Linked DNA regions of Homo sapiens. The protein of the gene in region 4 purifies or fractionates together with the protein of the main gene of each other region. This does not show direct contact. Each region holds a gene or a part of one and is shown on either strand. Other genes may lie near its edges. The genes, in order: RCC2, TRAPPC11, SOX10, OTUB2, NEXN, ZNF211 and TRAPPC8.

The links.
Region 1: the proteins of OTUB2 (region 4) and RCC2 purify together in Homo sapiens (affinity purification with mass spectrometry, with the first as the bait; one large-scale study listed by BioGRID). This does not show direct contact.
Region 2: the proteins of OTUB2 (region 4) and TRAPPC11 purify together in Homo sapiens (affinity purification with mass spectrometry; one large-scale study listed by BioGRID and IntAct). This does not show direct contact.
Region 3: the proteins of OTUB2 (region 4) and SOX10 purify together in Homo sapiens (affinity purification with mass spectrometry, with the first as the bait; one large-scale study listed by BioGRID). This does not show direct contact.
Region 5: the proteins of OTUB2 (region 4) and NEXN purify together in Homo sapiens (affinity purification with mass spectrometry; one large-scale study listed by BioGRID and IntAct). This does not show direct contact.
Region 6: the proteins of OTUB2 (region 4) and ZNF211 purify together in Homo sapiens (affinity purification with mass spectrometry, with the first as the bait; one large-scale study listed by BioGRID). This does not show direct contact.
Region 7: the proteins of OTUB2 (region 4) and TRAPPC8 purify together in Homo sapiens (affinity purification with mass spectrometry; one large-scale study listed by BioGRID and IntAct). This does not show direct contact.

The regions. Positions count from the first base shown.
Region 1 is NC_000001.11:17,419,178-17,422,677, reverse strand, and holds part of RCC2 (protein RCC2), read left to right. Parts: intron 1-386; coding exon 387-475; intron 476-1,849; coding exon 1,850-1,964; intron 1,965-3,500. UniProt on the Homo sapiens protein: Multifunctional protein that may affect its functions by regulating the activity of small GTPases, such as RAC1 and RALA. Required for normal progress through the cell cycle, both during interphase and during mitosis.
Region 2 is NC_000004.12:183,711,293-183,714,089, reverse strand, and holds the end of TRAPPC11 (trafficking protein particle complex subunit 11), read right to left. Parts: intron 1,491-2,797; coding exon 1,446-1,490; 3' UTR 501-1,445; downstream 1-500. UniProt on the Homo sapiens protein: Involved in endoplasmic reticulum to Golgi apparatus trafficking at a very early stage.
Region 3 is NC_000022.11:37,974,556-37,978,055, reverse strand, and holds part of SOX10 (transcription factor SOX-10), read left to right. Parts: coding exon 1-189; intron 190-3,500. UniProt on the Homo sapiens protein: Transcription factor that plays a central role in developing and mature glia.
Region 4 is NC_000014.9:94,024,858-94,029,139, forward strand, and holds the start of OTUB2 (ubiquitin thioesterase OTUB2), read left to right. Parts: upstream 1-1,482; 5' UTR 1,483-1,680; coding exon 1,681-1,683; intron 1,684-4,282. UniProt on the Homo sapiens protein: Hydrolase that can remove conjugated ubiquitin from proteins in vitro and may therefore play an important regulatory role at the level of protein turnover by preventing degradation.
Region 5 is NC_000001.11:77,926,624-77,930,123, forward strand, and holds part of NEXN (nexilin), read left to right. Parts: intron 1-92; coding exon 93-269; intron 270-2,692; coding exon 2,693-2,881; intron 2,882-3,500. UniProt on the Homo sapiens protein: Involved in regulating cell migration through association with the actin cytoskeleton. Has an essential role in the maintenance of Z line and sarcomere integrity.
Region 6 is NC_000019.10:57,636,168-57,639,667, reverse strand, and holds part of ZNF211 (zinc finger protein 211), read right to left. Parts: intron 1-3,500.
Region 7 is NC_000018.10:31,828,697-31,831,912, forward strand, and holds the end of TRAPPC8 (trafficking protein particle complex subunit 8), read right to left. Parts: intron 2,294-3,216; coding exon 2,059-2,293; 3' UTR 501-2,058; downstream 1-500. UniProt on the Homo sapiens protein: Plays a role in endoplasmic reticulum to Golgi apparatus trafficking at a very early stage. Maintains together with TBC1D14 the cycling pool of ATG9 required for initiation of autophagy. Involved in collagen secretion.

The DNA.
Region 1 (3,500 bases), on a different chromosome or scaffold from region 4:
CTCAGTTTGGCAAGAGGCCAGGTGGTCTGCCTTGGGGATGGGGCGTGGGGTGGTGGAGTTCCCCTTGTGACTCTTGGTCAGGATCAGAAAGAGGCCCTGAGAACCTTGGCATGGAGTGGCTTCTTGAGGGCATTGGGAGCCTCCCCAGTGGCCATAGGAGGCCCATCTGGGAGTAGGAGACGCTGCCCTCTGTTTCTCTGCACACCCAGTTTCTGATGTGAAATGGCTTTGCTGTGAAGCGTCTGCACTGCCAGCTTTTGGGCAGTCTCACTTGCCTTCTGCCTGGCAAATGAGCTGTTTTTATTATTTTGATGCCTTTGATTCTAAATCTAGTTCAAAACATTCACCATTATCTTCCCTTTTGTGATATTTTTCCTTTCTTCCAGAAACGGGCTCCGTGTTTGCGTTTGGGGAAAACAAGATGGGGCAGCTGGGCCTTGGCAACCAGACAGACGCTGTTCCCAGCCCCGCGCAGGTGACCCCTCCTCAGCTCCGGCTCCATGGCTTTTTGTTTCTCTTTACTTTTGTGTTTGATTTTCTAAGGTGGGGTCTCCGTTTGAGTTAATTTACCCCTTGTAAAAACAGGGTCTGGATGTTTAGTTACATGCTGTAGAGTTTTTTTGTTTGTTTTTTTGTTTTTTGTTTTTTTTTGAGAACGGAGTTTCACTCTTTTTGCCCAGGCTGGAGTGCAATGGCGCAATCTCGGCTCACTGCAACCTCCGCCTCCCGGGTTCAAGTGATTCCCCGGCCTCAGCCTCTGGAGTAGCTGGGATTACAGGCATGTGCCACCACACCTGGCTAATTTTGTATTTTTAGTAGAGACGGGGTTTCTCCATGTTGGTCAGGCTGGTCTGGAACTCCTGACCTCAGGTGATCCACCCACCTCGGCCTCCCAAAGTACTGGGATTACAGGTGTGAGCCACTGCACACAGCCTTGCTATAGTTTTTAAAACAGGCTTAGTTTGTGGTCGGGTTGAAAACCATCCTGAAAACATTTTGTTTCCAAATGGAGAAATCTGTTAGAAATGCCTTGTCGTAAGCCTGTTCTGTTCCAAAGAAAGTGAGTGATGTTATATGGATGTAATTGTACTTCCCCCAAATACTTTGTTTTGACCTTGTATAAAGTCACCAGCCAGATGCTTAGAATACAAATACGAGATAGGCAGTCTTTTTTTTTTGGAGGGGAGACAGAGTCTCGCTCTGTTGCCAGGCTAGAGTGCAGTGGCGCGATCTCAGCTCACTGCAACCTCTGCCTCCCGGATTCAAGCGATTCTCCTGCCTCAGCCTCCCGAGTAGCTGGGACTACAGGCATGCTCCACCACGCCTGGCTAATTTTTGTATTTTTAGTAGAGATGGGGTTTCACCATGTTGGCCAGGATGGTCTCCATCTCTTGACTTCCTGATCTGCCTGCCTCGGCCTCCCAAAGTGCTGGGTGTGAGCCACCGCGCCCAGGAGATAGGCAGTCTTTTTTTTTCTAAGAAACTTGAGTTGGAGGGGTGAGATTTATACCTTAAAAACAAACTACTACTAAAGGCAGAAGAATGCTAAGTGCCTAATTAGTGGTCTAGGTGATGAAGGAAGGGAGGGACTTGGTTTTATTGATCTTAAAGAGACAGTGGCTAGGCTTTGAACTGCTCTGTGCTGGGAGGGTGGGGGTCTGAGGGTGCTTCTTTACATATCTTCTAAGCTTTGTGTTCTAGAAATGCCTTCAGCTTTTGCCTTCAGAATTACTGAGTTTATTAAACTTCCGTTTGTAACCTAGTAATTGTTTCCCACCAACATGCAGAGAGGTAGAGGCTTTTTATCAGTCTTTAAAAAAAATGAAAGTCTCCTTTCTTGTCTTTTCAGATAATGTACAACGGCCAGCCAATTACCAAAATGGCCTGTGGGGCTGAATTCAGTATGATAATGGACTGCAAAGGAAACCTCTATTCCTTTGGGTGCCCTGAATATGGTCAGCTGGGTATGGAAGTACATTTTTTAAAAGCTCTGTAATCTAACTGTATATATTCAGAACTAGAGATCAGTGTGGGGCTGCACACACGTGTTAGAAATGTGGGTAATTGATCTCAGATAATAGCCTTTGTCCGTTAAGTGGATCTCACGTTCAGCAGAACAGCGCGTCCTCATTCACAGGATTATGGAGTATTGCAACACTGCCTCAATGGAAAAGTTGGGACTGGAGTCCTACAAAAGATTTCTTTTTTTCTGATTTGGGAATTCATTTATATAAAGGGATTTCAAAGTTAAAAAAAAATCAGACCACCTTCATTCAATTTCACATTTAAAGATTATGCCTTTATTGAAAATGAGAAAATTACGGAAAATGAACGTTGTTCTGGAAACCCTGGCCTGGGCGATTATTTCGGGTTGCCACGTGAGGAGCCCTGGTGGACCCCCTCCCCGTGCGTCATCCCTAGCCAGAATCTAGTTGTCCAGAAACTTGTTTCTTCGATCTCATTGGTGGAAAAGGAGAATTCAGGCATCAGTTCTCAGTTAGTGGGGGGAGTGTCTTCCGACCTGATGGTCTCCATTCTCCTTCCCATCGGACCCTAAGTGCGGTTCCCTGAAGTGCGCTTCCCGGTTGTGGCTCTGCCTCCACTCCAGCCCCTCTGGGGAGGCCTCCGCGAGGTGTGGCGCGGGCGCCCTCTGCTGGCCGCGCGCGCTCCTGCAGCCGCAGCGCCTGGCAGATGGAAAAGGTAAAAATAGCGCCGAGCCCGCTGGCCTTAGCCTCGGGGAACAGTGACTTTGTGAAACTAAATATACTTCAAGTCAGAAGTGAATAAGAGAGAACAGCCCCTTACGCACATTTCACATTTCGCGTTGGTTGCCGTGGTGGAGCCCGAGACAGTTGGAGAGCGGTTTCCATGGCCACAGCCCTGCTGCGGTGCCCAGCAGCGGTCCGCTTCCTGCCACGTGCGCGCTCCTGCTGCCTTGGCCTCCCCTCTGCACCCCGGCAAGTCGATTTTCCGTCAGGAAGCATGACATGCTGTTGGTGATAAAAACGGCTCACTTTCATGGAGCAGTGACTGTGTGTGCCAGGCACCATGTAAGCACTTTGTACAAATTCGCAGGTGCTCAGTTACACTCAACTTGCAGGTAGTTTGGAAATCGGCTTGATTTGTAGCTACAGAATCGCTTATTCTCAGCGTATTACTTGCTTTAAGGCAGGTGTTTGTTTCGTTGTCCAAATCCAGATAGATCACTTTTAGAATGAACCTAAATCCGACTATGGCCGTGTCTCATCCACACACACTCATGCCTTGTGCCCCCTTTTTTGCAGTGCACTGAACTGGGCTGGGCAACGCCAAGATAAGAAAGACGGAGTCTCCCTCTGTCACCCGGGATGGAGTGCAGTGGTGTGATCTCAGTTCACTGCAACCTCCACCTCCTTGGTTCAAGCAATTCTCCTGCCTCGGTCTCCCAAGTAGTTGGGACTACAGGCGCCCGCTGCCACACCCAGCTAACTTTTTTTTGTATTTTTAGTAGAGACGGGGTT
Region 2 (2,797 bases), on a different chromosome or scaffold from region 4:
AAGTGAATACCCTCTTCAGCCTTCCCATAAAAATATAGATGACACTGGCTGAGCACCCTCATACATAACTTTGGGTCTGGCACTGTTCCAAGCTCTTCTCATGTATGAATCTATATCATCCTTCATAACAAGCCTATAAGATGGGTGTTATTTACATCTTATATACAAGAACGCTGAGATACACAGAGGGTAAGGAACTTGAACAACGTCACCCAGACAAAAGCAGCAGAGGAGGGATTTGATCCTAGACAGCTGGACTCTAGAGTCATGCTCCATGGCCTCTACCTGAAAAGCCATGTTACAACAGGGAGCTCATGTCCTCCCAAGATAGCACTGTCCAACTCTCACATAATGTTACCAGAGCCAGTTCTAGAACACAGCCCAATTTTCAATCCTGTGCTTGCCATTGCATCTCATGCAACAGTGTTCTTAGTAAAAGCTGTTCCATGAAGCTGAAATCAAACAAGCTCAAAATAAAAGATAGAGACAGACAAGCATACTTGAAAGAGAACATGTTTATTTACATCACTATTTCCTTTTTACAATGCCTCCACCTTTTGAATAATAAAATTTTCCAGGAAATCAGGTCATTTTAAATTATTAAGGTATTTTAACAAATACAATTTTCACCCTATGATTTTTATTTACATGAGTTTTCAAGAGTTTTAAATAGTTCTTTTGAAACTGCACAATATAACCAGAAGGCCTGACTCAGACCCTGCATCTTTTCCAAAAACTTTCAGTCTAGGAAATTATGTTTATAATCAAATCCTTGCACTTTGGATCTTTTCCGATGAGGATTTTATTAACACCTCTAAAATATGAACCTGCTTCATAAATGATCCATATTTTGGCAGCAAGCTGAACCTATTTGACACTTCTTGATAGTAAGCAAAGATATTTTTGATACCTTAATTAAACTGCTTTGATTAAAACTTTCTGGAAGTTTTCCGTATCAGTCATACAACTCCCTATGTTGTTGTGTATGTGTTCTGAGTACACACTGAATTTATGAGAATGATTTATTTCCGGTCTGGCCAGCTCTGAAAGAGACACATGGGGGATTCGGAACTTTATGGCACAGGCACTGGTGCATCTGCTCTCTTTGTCCAGTCACACTTGGGATGCTTAATTTTCCTGATATTATACATGCAAATCACTTACTTTTCATAGAATTTACCATTCATCAAATGACTTTCAACAATAACAATGGTCTGACATTCTTTCATGTCGTACTGAGATTTCAGATATTTATTAGAGAAACTATAAGACAGATTTTCCTAATATTTTTGAAGTATGAGTTCCTCTGAATAGTTGGTATAACATCCATTAAAAAATAGAAAAGGTTAACTTTTTACCATGATCAAAGCTAGAGTTCACAATGAAACACCTGCATAGCTCTGCCCAACATCTCTGTAACAACAGCCAAGGGCCGGTCTTGAACATCATGCAGCAGCAATAGAGGTATCATCCATGAGTCGACCCTGTGGCTTTAAAGTGGGAAAAACAAAGTGGGTTTACAAAATTATAATATAATAACAAAAGCTCTATTAACTGGAAGGATTTTTAAATTCTTGAAACTGTTTTACAAAAACAGAATAAATGAGTGTAAGCATCAAAATAAAAATGGTGATATGGTGATTCTCCTCCTTTCACCCCACCTCTTTCTTTCTTCACTTGCACCTGGGGATGGCCACGGCACAGGCTGGGAGCTGCCCTCTCCTGTAGCCATCACCAGCTGACTCTGCACTTCCACCCGAAGAATCCTCTTCTGTCAGTACTTCTCTCTCAACCCTGCGTTCCAGCAGCTACTGCCAGGCCATCTCCCACATGTGGAATGGAACCTTGTTTATCATTCCTACTTAACTGATAGTTTTATTCTCTCTCTCTTGCTCAGGGCCCTCCTGTGTCTCAAGCTTTAAGCAGGTCCAGAGCCTGAGCTGACAGGTAAGTTCCTTTTGGGGACTCAAGGTTGCCCAATCTCCTGTTTGAGAAAAAGTGTCTGCAGTGAACTCCAATGCATGCTGCAAGGATAAAAGTGGCAGATAAAAACAAAAACTGCCCTATCTCTAAGATCACTGATTGAAAGAATTTAAAACATCACGTCAGAAAAGTCAAGACTAAGAATGAATAAAAGGTATCGTAACTGTTTTTAGTTGTAAAATTTCTGGCAGGTTAACAACATCCCAGAGGGATAGCTAGTAGCTAAAAGAATACAATTCTTACAAATAATTTTATTTTATTATACAGATATACAATAGCAGACCTTTGTGGGGAAAGCAGGAGAAAGATGATCAGGAAATGAAACAGAAGAGTGTTCACAATCAAAAGTGATTTGCTATGCTTTAAGCAGAAAGATTCTGAGGCATTCCCGAGGCAGTGAAGACAGCACTCCTGCTTTCAGTTTGCTGCTGCTGTGGTTGTTCAGATGTATATAGCAGTGTGTGTGTACATACATACAGAAACATAGCTAAGTATAGCTTCCAGACATTCACGGCAGGAATGGAGTGAGTGAAATAGGTTCCCGATCCTTGATTCTTGACTGTTTTTTTAGTACTGATGGGAGCTGCTCAATTTTAGAAACAAAATCATGGCTCAAGCTAGTGAAATCCCTGCCAAATGTAGCTTTTACAAGCAAGAGCAAAAAATGAGTGCATCATACAATTAGAAAACCAAAGCCTTTTATTCAAAGGAAGAAAAGTATGGATTCATCCTTGCCTAGGACGTCACTGTCTGGTATGGCAGTCGCTAGTCACATTTAGCGATTGAGCACTTGAAATGTGGCAGTGTAACTAAG
Region 3 (3,500 bases), on a different chromosome or scaffold from region 4:
ACTACAAGTACCAGCCCAGGCGGCGGAAGAACGGGAAGGCCGCCCAGGGCGAGGCGGAGTGCCCCGGTGGGGAGGCCGAGCAAGGTGGGACCGCCGCCATCCAGGCCCACTACAAGAGCGCCCACTTGGACCACCGGCACCCAGGAGAGGGCTCCCCCATGTCAGATGGGAACCCCGAGCACCCCTCAGGTGAGTGCTGATGACAGAGCTGAGGGTGGGGCAAGGCCAGTCAGTGGAGACAGGAGATGGCTGGATGGCAATGAGACCCTGGACTCTAGGGAGAGCGTGCCAGGCTGTGCAGTTGCCCCAGCAGAGCTGCAGGGGCCCAGAGGGAGCTCCATGGGGGTTCCGGTGCCAGGGGAAGTGGCTGGGTGAGATGGCTCTGGCCAGGGCTGATCCTACTGGGCAAAGAGGGCCAGTTAAAGACTGTGGAGGCCGCCGGGTGTGGTGGCTCACACCTGTAATCCCAGCACTTTGGGAGGCCGAGGAGGGCAGATCACGAGGTCAGGAGATCGAGACCATCCTGGCTAACATGGTGAAATCCCATCTCTACTAAAAATAAAAAAAATTAGCTGGGCGTGGTGGCGAGCACCTGTAGTCCCAGCTACTCAGGAGGCTGAGGCAGGAGGATGGCGTGAACCCAGGAGGCGGAGCTTGCAGTGAGCCGGGATCGCGCCACTGCACTCCAGCCTGGGCGACAGAGCGAGACTCTGTCTCAAAGAGAAAGAAAAAAAAAAAGACTCTGTGGAGGTCATGGAGTGAGAGGTGGCTGGGGCAGTTACAAGTAAAGGGGGAGAAGACAGGATGGTTTTGAGAAATGGAAGAGCAAATGGAGGAGAGGAAATCACTGCCTCTTTCCCACCAGCCATTCTTTTTTTTTTTTTTCTGGAGACAGAGTCTCACTCTGTCGCCCAGGCTAGACTGCAGTGGCATGATCTCGGTGCACTGCAACCTTTTCCTCCCGGGTTCAAGCAATTCTCCTGTCTCAGCCTCCCAAGTAGCTGGGACTACAGGTGCACACCGCCACGTCTGGCTCATTTTGTGTATTTTAGCAGAGACAGGGTTTCACTATATTGCCCAGGCCCAGTCTCAAACTCCTGAGCTCAGGCAATCTGCCCGCCTCGGCCTCCCAAATCCCACCAGCCATTCTGACAGAGGAGACATGGCATGTGATACCGTGTCTGGCCATGGATGGGCCAGACATAAGCTATCTTGTTTAATTTTCATTAATGATAATAACAGCTAACCTTAATTGAGCAGCTACTCTGTTCCAGGCACTGTGCTAGGTGCTAGTTGCCTTATGTATACTAACTCAATCCTTGCAAACAATGTGATGAGGTACCCAAACTGCCTGGGCTCAGATCTCAGCTGTGGCAAGTTACTCTCATTTTACTGATGAGAAACAAACAGGAACTTCCCCAGTTTGGCTCCCGGGCATCTGCTTGGCACCACAGCTGCCTTGCCTGTGTTCCTAATGTACAGAAAGTGACACACACAGGTCTGCCACATGGGAAGTGCTCAGTGAGCAGAGCTCTGCCTTCAGAGGACACGCTCTGAGTCCTACTTTGTGTCAAACACTGGAGTGGACACCAGGGGTACTAACCAGAGAAGCCTACAGTCCCTGGCCTCAGGGGCCCATAGTCTAGAGAGAGGAGCAGGGATGAAAACGAGTGAATTAAGTACAGGAAGAAACAAAGCTAGGCATGGTGGAATGCGCCCGCAGTCCCAGCTACACAGGAGGCTGAGGTGGGAGGATCACCTGAGCCCATGAGTTTGAGACCAGCATGGGCAATGTAGTAAGACTCTGTCTTTTTTTTGTTTTTGTTTTTGTTTGAGATGGAGTCTTGCTCTGTTGCCCAGGCTGCAGTGCAGCGGTGCCATCTTGGTTCACTGCAACGTCTGCCTCCTGGGTTTAAGCGATTCTTGTGCCTCAGCCTCCTAAGTAGCTGGGATTACAGATGCACGCCACCACACCCAGCTAATTATTGTATTTTTAGTAGAGATGGTTTTTCACCGTGTTGGCCAGGCTGGTCTCGAATTCCTGACCTCAGCCTCCCAAAGTGCTGGGATTACAGGCATGACCCAGCACGCCCAGCCTCCTATCTCTTACTATATATATAGTATATATATAGAGAGAGAAACAAGTGCACAAGAAGTCTGTGTGAGATCCAGAGGTGGCATGGCCGTCTATCCCATCCAGTCAGGTCTCCAAGAACACCCCACTGCCCACCAGACTCTTGTCAAGGAAGGCTTCCAGAAAGAGGCAATGCCTGGGCTGCTTGGTACAATCTCTATTTTACTGATAAGGAAACTAGTTAAGAGAAGACTGGGGATTTGTCCAGACACAGAACCAGGATTCAAAAGCCTAGGCAGGTCTCTTGAAGTACAGAGCCCTTGGCCAATGCAGGACTTGGCGCTGCCTCTGGTCTGATGAAGGAGGCACAGGCCTGTCCTTGGGGAGCTCCTAGTCTCTTAAGACCATGGACATGTTCTGTCTCCATTGGGATGCCAGGCAGTCATCCCTCCCACACACGTGTACATACTCTTCACCTTCAAAGATTCAGGGACACACACACACACATCAGGAGACCCTGGACCACATACAGAGCAACCACCTCAGAATGAAACTGGACACAGACTTTTTCTCACCCTTCAAGGCCCCACCCCACTCAGACATCCTTCCCTGATCAAACCTTCCCCAAATCCCTGAGGCAGCGGGTGGACTCCTCCTCTGGTCTCCCAAGTCCTTGCATATTGTCACCACAGCACTTCCAACTCTGGGTGCATGTGGATCTATGGATCTATGACTAGACTATGAGCTTTTGGGAACAGGGATCCATTTTATTTACATTAGTATCCCCAGCACCTGGCACAGTACCTGGCATTTTGTAATGCTCCCTAAGAGTTTGCTAAATTAATATGTGAATAGGAAAGTGAACAGACAAAGGAACAAGGACCAGTTTTCTAAGTGCCCTCCCATGGAGGAAGGCAGCTCAAAGAACAACAGGGCAACACAGGCCAGCGTATGACGGGGCTAAGGGCTTGCCAGTGGGCTGGGAAGCAGGGTGGGCTCAGGAGGAGGGAAGGGTTGGAAAGGACACAACATGAGGCCAGGACAGGGAGCAGGCCCAGGCAACCAGCAAAGGTGAAACAGAGCACTCAGGAGCCTGGGCGAGCGAGGCTCAGCAAGGAAGACAGTAGGCATGGGTGTGGAAGCGGGGCTGGCAGAGCGCAAAGGCTGGGCCAGACCACCTGGACAGCAGAGAAGCTGATGAGAGGAAGAACTTTCCACAGGAAAGGTTTTTTCAGAATGAGGCAGGCCTCCCCAGGACCCATCCCTAAGATTTGAGAATTTCATAAACAACTAGAGATCAATCTAAGACACCAGTATTTAAACAAATGCTGTGGGGCGCAGTGGCTCATGATGGTAATCCCAGCACTTTGGGAGGCCGAGGCAGGTGGATCACCTGAGGTCAGGAGTTCAAGACAACCCTGGCCAA
Region 4 (4,282 bases):
GCAGAGAGTGAGCCCAGGACTCGGGGCTTAGTGCAGCCAAACTTGAGGGCTCATCAAAGCCTTGGCTGAAAAGACTCTTCACCCATACCCCTCACTCAGACACCATGGAACCTGGCTCAGTCATTCCTCCACAGAGGGAAGCTAACACGCCTTGGAATGAGCACTGGTTGGGGAGTCAGGAGTCCAGGGATCCAGCCCAGCCAGGCCACTTCTTAGCTCAGCAGCACTGGGCTGCTCCTGTCACCTCTCTGGCTTCCTTGGCGGTTAAAAAAAAAAAAAGAGCGAGAAACCCCCCGAAAACAAATGGGGGTCAGGGGCGGAGGCAGGTAACACAGCCCCTGTAGTCACATGCAGAGTGAATTCGAAACCAGCTCTGGAGTCACACTGCCTGGGACTGAATCCCACTTCAGTGCTATGTGACTAAGGCAAGGAACGTAAACTCTCTGTACATGTTTCCTCATCTGTGAAACAGGGATAATAATAACAGGACCTACCCCCTTAAACCAGTTGTGAGGAAATTAAGTAAGATAATTCTGTATATGTGGAGAGTTCAGGATAGCGCCTGATACATAGTAGGTGTTCTGCATAACTGTGTAAATAACTGTAAAAAATTACCTGCTATTGTTACTGCTCCTTGAGCCTCCATTGACCTCACACTCCCTGCCCAGGACATGATACATGCTTGGAAGACTCAGATGTCTGTATGCCCAGAGCCTAGCCCAGTACCTGGGACTTACGTAGTAAGAGTGGGGCGCGGGGGGCGGGGGCGGGGGGCAGCAGCAGGAAGGGGAATTGCTCAATACACGCTCCTGGAAATATTAATTTTTTGAAGTGGATGCATGCAATGCACTGAGCCCCCCTCCCCTACAAACTCTCCCTCCCACACCCAAGCAGCTCCTCCAGGACTCAAGGGCTGGTGAATGAATCTTTGAATGATAAATATTCCTATTTTGATGTCCATTAATAATGAGCTTGTAGGCAAGATGAGTCATCTAGACCTGGTTCACGGATATCCCTACAATTCCAGAGCCACAGAGTCAACGATCCTGGACATTCATTCATTCAACAAACATTAACTGGGTGCGTGGCAACCTACTGATTCATGAGTTGGAAGAGGATAAAATATTATATAGAAGCCATACTTAATGTTATTGGACACGTGTTCCCTAAGCGCCTATCCTCTGATCTTGTGCAAACTATACTTATGTGACCTTGTTTATGAATTAATGACGGCCAGCTAATCCTTCAGAAGACTCCAATTTTAGGTTTGCGCAAAAGCCCTTCAGCCTTTACAAACGAGGACCTGTCTTTCTGGGTTGAGCTAACTCCTCTGCTAGTTAAAAGCTTTCCTGTGTCTTTAAAAGGGGGAGGCATCCTATCAAATGGACCCTAACGCATAGGCTGAAGGCACGTGAAGTCCCACCCACTTTCTATGACGTCCCGCGTCCCGGCTTCTGATTGCCCGCCTGAGACGTCAATCGCAGGGCGTGTGTCTTGCTGGGACACAGTGGAGGTCTAACCTTTGGTTTGCGGAGCGGTCGGGTGTATTCTCCGCCGCCCCCACGCCCTCGAGGTCCCCGCCACCGAACCAGCGGCGGAGCCCGCCCGCGCCTCCCGCGGCATTCCCGCACCGGATCGCTCCTCGCTGGGGCGGGACCTGGCCTGGCGGCTCTGGTCACTATGGTCAGTGATCGTGGGGGATCGCGAAGGGGGAGCGGGCAGGGGGCGCGGTGGGCGGGGTCGCTGCCGGAGCGGGTGCACCCGCGGGACGGGGGTCGGACGCGAGGCTCAGCCCCCAGCTCGCCCCCGCCGCTTTCCGACCCCCTGAAATACGGAGTCCGGACGGATACTGAGGGCCAAGTCGCGCCCCCCTGTACCCCGTGGATGTGCAGCTGAGGAGGTCCAGCTCGGCCCCGAGCCCCCGCCCCCAGCGTGTCCGCCCCAGGTGGCCCGGGGCGCCGCCTCGACGGCGCTGGGTGGGCGCCCTCGACGGAAGCAGGGACAGGGAGGCTGCAGCACTACGGGTCGCCTCCTCTTTGTTAAGTAGCCCCCCAGTCAGCAGTCCACGGCCCCACCCACCCGACGGCTCGGCCGTCAAAGACCTCCTGGCCCCTGCCCCAACCCCAAGGGAGGATCTAGGGGTTGCACGGGGCACCAGGTCGTCTGCTCCGTGGGCGACTAGACCGTCTCCATCTTTGGAGTCAGGACCCACCTAGAGAGGATGCCTCAAGTTGTGAGGCGCATGAGTTAGGGGTCGGGGAAAAGAAAATACTCAGGAATCCCTGATGGAGAGCCTTGTCTGCGCAGAACGAGGCCCAGAGACCCTCTGAGCCAGGCTAACCCTGGGCTTGGGCAGGTGGGGAAACTGAGGCCAGACAGGGCAGGGCTGGTACTGATTGTGGTGGACCTGGGGCTTGAACCCAGGCTCTGGACTCTCAGTTCAGTGCTCTTTGTGTTACATCGGCTCACCTTCCAGGTTGCCGTGGGGTCAGGCATCCTGCAGGGGACTGGGTGGCATGGCTGCCTAAGACCCTTCAACCCTGAGCAGGGGGAGCCTGTGGAGTGAGGGCTGGGTGGCTTGAGTCGGGGCCACACAGCCCCAGGTTCAAGTCTCACTTCCACCTGTTGGAAAGCGAAGAGGCTTTGGTTGGTCCGCTCTCCCCCTCAGCACCGTTTTGCACATCTGTGTCATGGGAACCATGTGATATGATTAGCTGGAGCTTTTCCTGTGACAACAGAGTCCTGGAAATGGGTGTGCACAGATGCCTGGTTCTTCAAGCTTAGCCTCCTCTCTCCTATGACTGGGCAGGAAAATGGGTCACCACGGCAGCATGCTGCCGGGCTGGGGCATGGGTCAAAGCCTGGTCATGGCCTGGCACGATCTGGGTGTGGCATAGGCAGCCAGGGCACTCGAGCTGGGACTGTCCTTGCCAAGCCAGCCTGCTGCCTGGGGCATAGCTGGGGGCCTCTGGAGCATCTGGAAGCACCAGCTTCCTGCTTCCACTTGGTGCCCAAGGGTTTACCTGGTTGAGCTGCTCCTGGAAGGCAGCCCAGGTGTTTCTGCATCACCCACCAGGGAGTGGTGGAGCTGGGGTAATGATGGGCTTAGCCACCCGGGAGCTGGAGGCTGGCATGCCCTCTGGCCACCACTCGGCAGCTGAGAGCACAGCAGAGGCGGTAGCTGCTCTTTGTGCCATGCAGTGAGGCCGCTCACTCTGCTCCCTATCTGCCCTGACTCAGGAGACTGGAAGTTAGATGGCAGATGGGGTCCAAAGCCCTCACCCCTCACCGGGGGCTTGGGTGCCTTGGCGAAGGATGAAGTGGTTAACCCACTAAAATATGACGTCTGTCTGGTAATCACAGGGGTGGAGGCCATGCAGGGTCTTTTCCCTTCCCTGCACATGGCATTTATTGAGCACCTACTGCATGCGGGGACCATACTGGGCCCTGTGCTGCATGGTGGGTTTTTATGTTGAACTTGCATTGTGTGGATGGTGGTGACAGAAGGAATATCCTTGGAAAATACAGCATCTTCTTTACTTTCCTGTTTCTACATCACTGGGCTAAGCTTGAGGAAGGGCGCCCCGTGGAAGACACAAAGACACTTGGGAAGGTAGGGGTGAGACAAGGACCAGACCTCTGGCAGGGACTGCAAATAGCTAGGGTTCTCGTGCACTCAAGGTGCATTTCATGTTTGACGAATGAATGAGTCAGACATAAGCAGGAAAACCGCAGGGTCCTATTGTGCTTTGTTCTGTTATTTGTCAAACAGGCCCCCAGTGGGCACCTTTGTCAGGCCTGTGCTGGGCACTGTGACACTGATGAGAAAGACAAGGTGCCTGCCCGCTGTAGGAGCTCACTGCCTGCTGGCCAAGACAGCTGGACACAAGCAGTGTCTGAGCTACAGGTCATGCCTAAGAGGCCTAAGGACATTGGGAACACAGTGAGAGGTCAATATGCTCTGAGGGAGTGGGGGTGTTGGAAGGTTCTGCAGAGGAGGTCTTTTGAGCTGAGTTGAAGGATGTATATGAGTGTTCAAGAAGGATTTGGGAAGGGCACATTCCTTTTGGCGGGTGCGGGGGGACAGTGGGCTATCAGGCCTTGAAGCATGGTCAAGAATAGGGGATTTTGGCAAAGGTGAACAGCCTCTGAAGATGCAAGGAGATTGAGGGAGGCAGGGAAATTGAGTCTAGAAAATTTGGTGGGGTCAGGATGTTCTGTGCAGGGCCTCACTTGCTGTGCTGTGGGGTTTGGGTTTTATTCCACCAATGAGGGGGAAACC
Region 5 (3,500 bases), on a different chromosome or scaffold from region 4:
TTGTTTGTTTTCTAAGAAACAAATCAAGGCAGTTTAAGTTAGCAGCATTTTCCTTTATGACTAAAAGGTGGGTTTTCATAACGTTTTCTTAGGATGATGAAATAGAAAGTGAAGCAAAAAAAGAATCACTTTCTCCCGGAAAATTGAAACTAACTTTTGAAGAACTGGAGCGACAAAGACAAGAAAACCGAAAGAAGCAAGCTGAAGAGGAAGCAAGAAAACGTTTAGAAGAAGAGAAGCGTGCTTTTGAAGAAGCAAGGCGGCAAATGGTAAATCTACATATTTAAACCTTACAATTAATATTAATGAAGTTAGCCGACTTAAGATAAGGTTTACTACTACAAATTCAAAGAGATTTTACATATAGAAGGGCTGATTTTCTAATTGTATTCATATTTCATATATAAAATACATCTAGGCTAGGCACGGTGGCTCATGCTGTAATCCCAGCACTTTGGGAGGCCAAGGTGGGTAGATCACCTGAGGTCAGGAGTTTGAAACCAGCCTGGCCAACACTGTGAAATCCCTGTAATCCCAGCTGCTTGGGAGGCTAAGGCACGAGAATCACTTGAACTTAGGCGATGGAGGTTGCAGTGAGCTGAGATCACGCCATTGCACTCCAGCCTGGGTAACAGAATGAGACTGTCTCAAAAAAAAAAATCCATACTGTTTTCCAGTTTTCACTCTGGGGCATTTTACCCAATATGCTTTAAATTTTTATTTTTATACATTGTTATTAATGTATAAATATGCAAAATAATTACTCAATGAACCTGGTTTCCTTCATCTGTTAGTTCAATCTGCAAAGTACTTAATGACATGGGTGCGGGACTGATTATAAGTGTAAACTTGTCCTCAGCAGTCCAGTTTTTCAACTGTTTGAACATATCAAAATAACAGTTTACGGTGGAATATGCAGTTTGTCCTATTAAGTGTATGTGTGTGCATATTTGTGTGCATGCCTCTGTGTGTGTGTGTCTGTGTGTGTGTGTGTGTGTGTGTGTGTGTGTAGTGTGGTTAAGAGCATGGATTGTGGGGCCAGATTGTCTAGATTCAGATATCAGCCATTTACTAACTGTGTAACCATGGACAACTGTTTTAATCTCTCGCTGTGTTAATTAATTAAATCTCTCTTAGTTTCTTCATTTTTAAAATGGTAAAAATGAAAGCGCCTACTTCTTTTTTTTTTTAACTTCCACAATGACTTGGATTTTTTTTCAATGCCTATTTCTTAAATGGTTAAACAAGTTAATATCTAGGAAGCACTTAAAATGGTGTTTGTTACATATACTAAGTTCTTTGAAAATGTTAATTATTACTATGGTATTAATAGATTTATCAACAGAAAGTAAAACTGAAATAAGAAAACACTGATTCCAAACCTCGTTTTAAGATTTAAAAATGCGCCAGGCATGGTGGCCATGCCTGTAATCTCAGCACTTTGGAAGGCTGAGGCAGGCAGATCCCTTGAGCCCAGGAGTTTGAGACCAGCCTGAGCAACATGTGGAAACCATGTCTCTACAAAAACAAATACAAAAATTAGCCAGGTGTGGTGGCACAGACCTGTAGTCCAAGCTCCCCGGGTGCTGAGGCGAGAGGATTGCTTGAGCCCGGGAAATCAAGGCTACGGCGAACTATGAATGAGCCACTGGACTCCAGCCTGGGTGACAGAGTGAGACCCTGTCTCAAAAAAAAAAAAAAAGGATCTAAAAATGGAATATTTGTAATTTTAAAGTTACAGAACTTTCTTGATCAGCTTTCTTGAATGATGTTCTAAGAATTATATATATAAAAATTTAATTTTCTAGACATTTATTTGAAAATGTTATTACTCGGGTATAGCTGCATAATATCTGCACATTTTAGATATTTCTGGTGGTCAACTTAATAAAGAAATAGTATTGTTAAATAAATAATACATTTCAATTGATATTATAGTAAATTTAATAATAAACCTTTAATGATAAAATCATAAAGCTGGAATTTTACATAAAATAGTTCTAGATAATAATCTTTTATCTGATTAGTATAAGGTACCATAGTTCACAGTAAAAAAAAAAATACAAAAATTACAAAATGAGAACATTATTTTACTACCAAAGAGATTCTGTGTAGATATACTTGAACCCCAATTATAGTACACACATACGCATTTTATATTTGTTCTGGGAAAGTTAATACTCAACAGTAACCCCTCACTGCAGCCTCAACCTACTGGGCTCAAGGGATCCTCCCACCTCAGCTTCTCGAGTAGCTGGGACTACAGGCACACACCACCACACTGGCTATAATGTGTTTTTTGGTTTTTAGTAGAGACGAAGTCTTGCTATGTTGCCCAGGCTGGTCTTGAACTCCTGGGTTCAAGTGATCCTCCTGCCTCCTAAAGTTCTGGAATTACAGGCGTGAGCCGCCACAACACCTGGCTAAAAATGTTTTAATATTCAATTTTATCTATAGAAATTTGGCTTATTTGAGAAGTTTTATTTAACCTGAGTACATCTTTATATGGAATTTCTCCAAATTTGAATATTTTATCATAGAAGACATTAAAAAGGAAGGGGATTTAGGTCAAGTATATTAAGGGCATTGAAACTCCTGTGTGATAGTGGCTAATTCTGTGCCTTTTGATTAATAATTCATTCCTTTTTCTGATGAACCTCAATTCTTAGTAATGAATTGTTTATTTGGTTAGGTAAATGAAGATGAGGAAAACCAAGACACAGCAAAAATTTTTAAAGGGTACCGCCCTGGTAAACTCAAACTCAGTTTTGAAGAAATGGAAAGGCAAAGAAGAGAAGATGAAAAAAGGAAAGCAGAAGAAGAAGCCAGAAGGAGAATAGAGGAAGAAAAGAAGGCGTTTGCTGAAGCAAGGAGAAATATGGTAAGACAGAAGCTAACTGGAGAATGCTATTAGAATTCACCTTTGAGAATATGTTAATAGAATCATTAGACTTTAGAGAATACCCTATTATTTCTGGAAACTGTGCCAAGAGTAGAAATGGCAAATATGTTTTAAAGTCTCCCATGGAATAACACCAGTTGGTTGAAGGTATTTGCTTCAATTTAGTGTTCAGAAGATTCTGCTTTAAATTGCCATGCTTGGCACAAAGGATGGAATATTATCTCCCTTCTCTGGGAAGGCATGTTTTCCAGAACTAAGTATCCAAGGAAGAAGAAGAAGTAGGGAGTTTCCTCCCTCAACTTTTCTTTCTTCCTCTCCATTCTTTCGCCACCTCCTTCCCATACTCCCTTTCTCCCTCCTTCATTCCTTTATTTCCTTCCTTTCCTTCTTTCAGTTTTCATCCCACCTACTATATATTAAATGACCTGAGTCATTTAATCAGAATTATTTCTCTCTTCAAAATGCTCACTCATCACTCCTGGAAATTGATACCTAACTTAACTGTCACAAGGTTATGACTGTACTTCCTATACCAGTTTTATGTTTGTACAATGTACAGTTATCTGACAAACAATTTTGAAGCAATTTGAGACTAGAG
Region 6 (3,500 bases), on a different chromosome or scaffold from region 4:
GATCAACTGAGGTCAGGAGTTTGGGACCAGTATGGCCAACATGGTGAAACCCTGTCTCTACTAAAAATACAAAAATTAGCTGGGTGTGGTGGTGTGCGTTTGTAATCCCAGGAGGGATTACTCAGGAGGCTGAGGCAGGATAATCGCTTGATTATGGGAGGCAGAGGTTGCAGTGAGCCGAGATCGCCCCACTGCACTCCAGCCTGGGCAACAGAGTGAGACACCATTAAAAAAAAAAAAAAAAAAAAAAAAAAAAAAAGTACATAAAGGAAATGACAAGGGAAGTTTCACTAAAAAAAAAAAAAAAAAAAAGTGAGCCAAACACAAAAGAAGCAGTAATGCAGGAAATTAGGATCAAAAAAGCTATAAGGCTATAAGACATGGGGAAAACAAAGAGCAAAATGATAGAAGTCTGCCCTTCCTTATCAGTGATTACCTTAAACGTAAATGCCTTAAATGCTCCCAACTTTTAGCTTAAACTCTGCCAAAAGACAAAGATTGGCAGAATGGGTTAAAATAAAAACAACCCATGATCCAACTTTATGATGTCTACAAGAGATTTGCTTTAGATCCAAAGATGTAAATGAGGTGAAAGTGACAGCCTACAAAAAGATATTCCATGCAAATAGCAAGCAAAAAAGAGTAAGAATGGCTACATTAATATCATACAATAGAGATTTTAAATCAAAAAGGGTAACAAGAGATATAAAAGGATATTATATACTAATAAAAGGTTCAGTAGAGCAAGAAGATATAACACTTATAAACACTTATGCACCTAATAATAGACCATCAAAACACATGAGGCAAAAATGGACAGAACTGAAGGGAGAAATGGATAGTTCTACAATAACAGTTAGAGACATCAATACCTGACTCTCAGCAGCGGATAGAACAATCAGAGAGAAGAGAGAAAACAGAGGACCTAAACAACCAACTAGCTCTAACAAATATATAAAGAGCATTCTACCCAACAACAACAGAATGTACATTCCCCTCATGTGTACCAAAAACATTCTCCAGGACAGACCATAAATTAAGCCTCATTTGATTTAGACACACATCATACAAAGTATCTTCTCCAACCACAGTGGGATGAGGTTGGGAACTCTTAATAGAAGGAAACTAAAAAATTTACAAATCTGTAGAAATTAATACAATATTGAAAAACCAATGGGGCCATGAAGAAATCAGAAGGGAAATAAATTGGAGATGCAGTAAAAGCAGTACTAAAGGGGAAATTTATAGCTATAAACATTAAAAAGAAGAAAGATCTCAACTCAACAATCTATTTTTACAACTTAAGGGATTATAAAAAGAGGAACAAACTAAAACCAAAGCTGGCAGGAAAAAAATAATAAAGACTAAAGTCTAGATAAATAAAATAGAGAAGAGAAAAACAATATAAAAAAAAAATCAACAAAACCAAAAGGTGTTTCTTTGAAAAGGTTATCAAAATTGACAAACCTGGCCGGGTGCAGTGGCTCATGCCTGTAATTCCAGCACTTTGGGAAGCTGAGGTGGGTGGATCACCTGAGGTCAGGAGTTCAAGACCAGCCTGGCCAACATGGTGAAACCCCATCTCTACTAAGAATACAAAAATTAGCCAGGTGTGGTGGCATGTGCCTGTAACCCCAGCTAATCGGGAGGCCAAGGCAGGAGAATTGCTTGAATCCAGGAAGTGGAGGTTGCAGTGAGCCAAGATCACACCACTGCACTCTAGCCTGGGTGTCAGAGCAATACTCTGTCTCAAGAAAAAAAAAAAAAAAAAAGACAAACCTTAAAGAAAAGCCCTTGACTTGATGGCTTCACAGATGAATTCTACCAACCATTTAACTAAGAACTAATACTTATCCTTTTCAAATTCTCTCAAAAAACTGTAGCATACACACATCTAAACTCATTCTGTATGGCCAGCATTACCCTGATTCCAAATGACACAAAGATTGTGTAAGAAAATAAAACTACAGACCAATATCCTTGATGATTATTAATGCAAAAACCATCAACCAAACACTAGCAAACTGAATTCAACAGCATATTAAAAGGATTATGCACTACGACCAGATAGAATTTATTCCTGGAATGCAAGGATGGTTCAACAAACAAAAACTGATCAAAGTGGTGGCTTACACCTGTAATCCCAGCTACTTGGTAGGCTGAGGCAGGAGGATCGCTTGCGGCCAGGAGCTTAAGACCAGCCTGTGTAACATAGCAAGACCCCATCTCTAAAAAAATTAAAACGATCATCTCAGCTGATGCACTGAAAGCATTAGACAATATGCAACACTTTTTCGTGGGGAAAACACTCAGAAAACCAGGAATACAGGGAAATTACCTAAACATAATAAAATCCATATGCAAAAAAAAAAACCTACAGCTAAAATTATACTCAACAATGAAAGACTGAAAGATTTTCCTCTAAGATTAAGGACAAGATAAGGATGCTACTTTTAGCACTTCTGTTCAACATAGCAATTAGGCAAGAAAAAGAAAGAAAAGGGACCAAAATGGGAAAGGAGGAGTAAAATTATCCCTGCTCACAGATGATATACATGGAATACCATAAAGATTCCACTGAAAAACTGTTACAACTAATAAGGAAATTCAGCAAATAGGAGAATATAAATACAACATGCAAAAATCAGTTACGTTTCTATACACTAATGGTGAACAATTTGAAAAGTAAACAATTCCACTTATATCAAAAAGAATAAAACATTAAAGATTAACTTAACCAAACAAGTAAAAGCCTTGTACACTAGAAACTACAAAATTTTGCTAAAATGAATTAAATAAAACATTAATAAAATAGATCACATGCCTGCTCATGGACTAGAGTGCTCAATATTGTTAAGATGTCTATACTAGCCAAAGTAATCTATAGAAAGTGCGATACCTATCAAAATCCAAATGACGTTATTTTGCAGAAATAAAAAAATCCATCCTAAAATTCATTTGAAATATCGAGAGACACAGAATAGCTAAAACAATCTTGAAAAGGATGAAAGTTGGAAGACTCACAGTTCGTAATTTCAAAACTTACTGCAAGGCTATAGAAATTAAAACAGTGTGGTACTCCCATAAAGAAAGACATATAGATCAATGGACTAGAAGAGACCCCAGAAATAAACCCTCAAATATCTGGCCAAATGATTTTTGACCAGGAGAAAGAAGACAAATTTTTAACACATGATGCTAGGAAAACTGGATATCTACATGTGAAAGAATGAAGTTGGTCCCTTACCTGACACCACATATAAAAATTAATTCAAAACAGATCAAAGATCTGAATGTAAGTACTAAAACTATAGAAGTCTTAAAGCAAGGAAAAAGCTTCATGACATTGGACTTGTTAATGATTCCTTGGATATGATATAAAAAGCATAGACAATAAAAGTAAAAAAGTAAAACTGAATTCATCAAAATGAGAAACTTGTACATCAAAGGATCCTATCAACACACTAAAAACGTAACCCACAGAATAAGAGAAAACATTT
Region 7 (3,216 bases), on a different chromosome or scaffold from region 4:
TGTATAGAAAACCAACCTATGTTGCAATTGATAAGCGAGAATAATTTTAGTATGAATGCTGGTTGATATTTCTGTTTACATTAACGAGGAAGAGGAAGTGAGAAAACACATGTTGGATCTTCACTAGTTCATCAGTGATACGGGCAACTTCTTTGTTGAACTGGGTAAAACTTTTCAGATACTGCAGGAATATTTTCCTAAACTATTTGTGCTACTCGTTACAGCTACAAATATGCAACACTTTTAATATGCATCACTAACATTTTCTCCATCACTTTCTTAGGTCTAGCGTAGACAACAAAAATAAATAAATCAAGCCCTGGTGTGTAGCATTTGCTGGTTTTCCTGAGGTAAACATTCTACTATCATTGATTTCAAGCTACCAGCAAGTCACTGAATGTAGGGTTGGCAAGAGATGAGCAGAAACACACCATTGTGTAGTATTTCCAGGATACAGATAAAATAGACATAAATAATCCTGAGTAATATTCAGGAAGTAATTTTGAGTGCTTTATTACCTTTATTTTTAATATATTCAGTTGTAGGTTTATATAGTTTAATTTTTTTATTAGTGTCTGTTTAACAATCGGTTCAATTTAATATTCAGCTGAGTGGTTTAAATATGAGATACCACTGTGATTATGCCTCCTCATTCTTGTCTTTCCTCCTCAGACTTTTTATAAGCCCATGGCCCTAAACTCTCAAGAAGGAAATGAGTGTCCTTAGAATGTGACCTTCCTCTCCAACTTGTCCCACACCTGCTAAGACACAGAGTGGAAGGAGCTGAAAAGCCAGAGACCCACTTAAGATCCAGAAGCATAAGCAGCAGTTGCAGAGAGGCACACAGACTAGCCACCCATCTCTCAAGAAGAGTTGTTCCAAGTACAGGTTTGGAATCTTCAGTCTGAAAACGGGGTCTTTTGATCTCTCCCCACTTTGGTGCAGTCTGCTCCGATTAGTGCCGAGATTGAGACTGGAACAAACCATGGTAGCTGTCAATGGCACAAGGACCCCATCTGCTCCAGACTTGACTGACCCTGGCTCTTGTACTCCCTGCCACCCACTCCTACACCCTGTCTTCCCTCCTTCTCCAATGACAAGAGATATTCATTGAAACAACCTTGCTCCCATTTCTCTATCTGCAGCAGGGCTGAATTGAAATTTCTTATGTCCAAATGCCCATTCTCTGAATAAAAAAATATTTTGAAACCAGACTTTCTAATCAACAGATACTAATACGCTATACAGTGAATAGCATGTCTTTATTCTATTTACAGTATATTTGTTATAAATATAATACATTTTTGAAAAGCTTATTTTTAATTAACTTGAGATTTATATTTTAAACAGATCAACTCAATAGTTAACGTTATATAATAAAGAATATGGTAATTTTAATGACAAAAATCGTATTGTGAAATAGCGCACTCTATACTGAGATGAATGAGGGGAAAAAAGTCAAAACTCCTTTCAAAACTATATTCAAAGCATCAGAAAAAATTTTTTTTTCTTTTTACAAAGTTATGTATAAGTCATAGGGACCACCAAATACTGAAATATGAAGACTCTATGACCAAAGTTCAAAACTGATTTTAAGGAACTGTGTGAAGCAAGACAGGAAAATTTGTATTTAACACTCTATAGAACTTCACAGTAAAGCTGGAATTTAGAGACTAATGGCTTAACAGGAGTACTGCCAACAAGGCCTTTCCTTTCTCAGAATCATCTCCTAATATTCGTATACCATTGACAAGTTGTAACAGCAGACTTAGACTTTGTGTTTTCTTAAGATGGGGCTTAATAAGGTGCACAAATATGCTGATATCCTGTATTATGAGCATGTAAATTATTCTCAGGGTTTAAAGAAATACAGAAAAAGAATGTTAAGTATTCTCAGTCCAACGTGCTTTGCATCATCAACAAAATGACAAGTCAAAGTATTTTGCAGGGATCAGATATCAATCAACCTCCATAACAAGTTAGGTATATCAAATACTGCTGTAAAACCCATCCAGCAAAAACTGATTATTGTGGATTTCAGTACAAATTTCCAAGTTGTCACACATTACTGATGATGATCAGGGCAGGCATGGAATTCTGCTGACTTGTTTCAAACACTGTAACTTGGTCCGATAACTTGGCAAATACCCTAGGAGTTCCAAGGTTATAAACACCTGTATGAACAAAGCATGCTTTCAGCTGCAGACTGTGAATCTCCTGGCTTTTAAGTTGAAGTTTATACTGTGTTTGTCCAAGCCATGTGAATGATCCATGGATTTCCAGTGCTTCTGGACTAAGGGAGGAGGAAAATGTAAGTTGCAGGATTTTTTTCTTTTTAATTTTTTTCCCAAAGTCACATTAACATATCCCTTTCAGCTGGGCGCGGTGGCTCACGCCTGTAATCCCAGCACTTTGGGAGGCTGAGGCAGGTGGATCACCTGAGATCAGGAGTTCAAGACCAGCCTACCAACATAATGAAGCCCCGTCTCTACTAAAAATACAAAATTAGCCAGGTATGGTGGTGCACGCCTGTAATCCCAGCTACTCAGGAGGCTGAGGCAGGAGAGTCACTTGAACCTGGGAGGCGGAGGTTGCAGTGAGCTGAGATTGCACCACTGCACTCCAGCCCATGAGAGAGCAAGACTCCATCTCAAGAAGAAAACAAACATCCCTTTCATCTAACAATTCTATTTCTAAAAATTATTTTATGAAGCCAACTGTTTATTAATAATAGCAACATCATTACTATAACAGCTAACATTTATTATTTAATAGTTTCTATTCTCTAGGCACAATGCTAAAAGTGGATTATTTCATTTAATGCCCTAAGAGTTAGTATATGTTGGAACTTGATTTCAAACCTAAACTTTTAACTCCTTAGTTAGCCATATATAAGTGTCTGTACATGAATGCTTTTAATATTGAAACTGTTTATAATATTGAAAAATGGAAAACCCAGTACCCAATAAAGTATTAATAAATTTATGATACACAAAATCACATATATAGGTGTGTGTTTGGATTTCAGAGAACTGTCCCAGATCCTGTTTGGGGTGTTATACAAAAATATTAAGTATACGCTTTATAGTATTTTTCCAAAAATTCAAAAATTTCTGAATTCCCAAAAGCATTTGGCTCTAGGAGTATCTGATGTGGGACTGTGGATCTGGATTTTTTTTTGTTGTTAAGTACTATTTTATAATCAAGAAAAAAAAA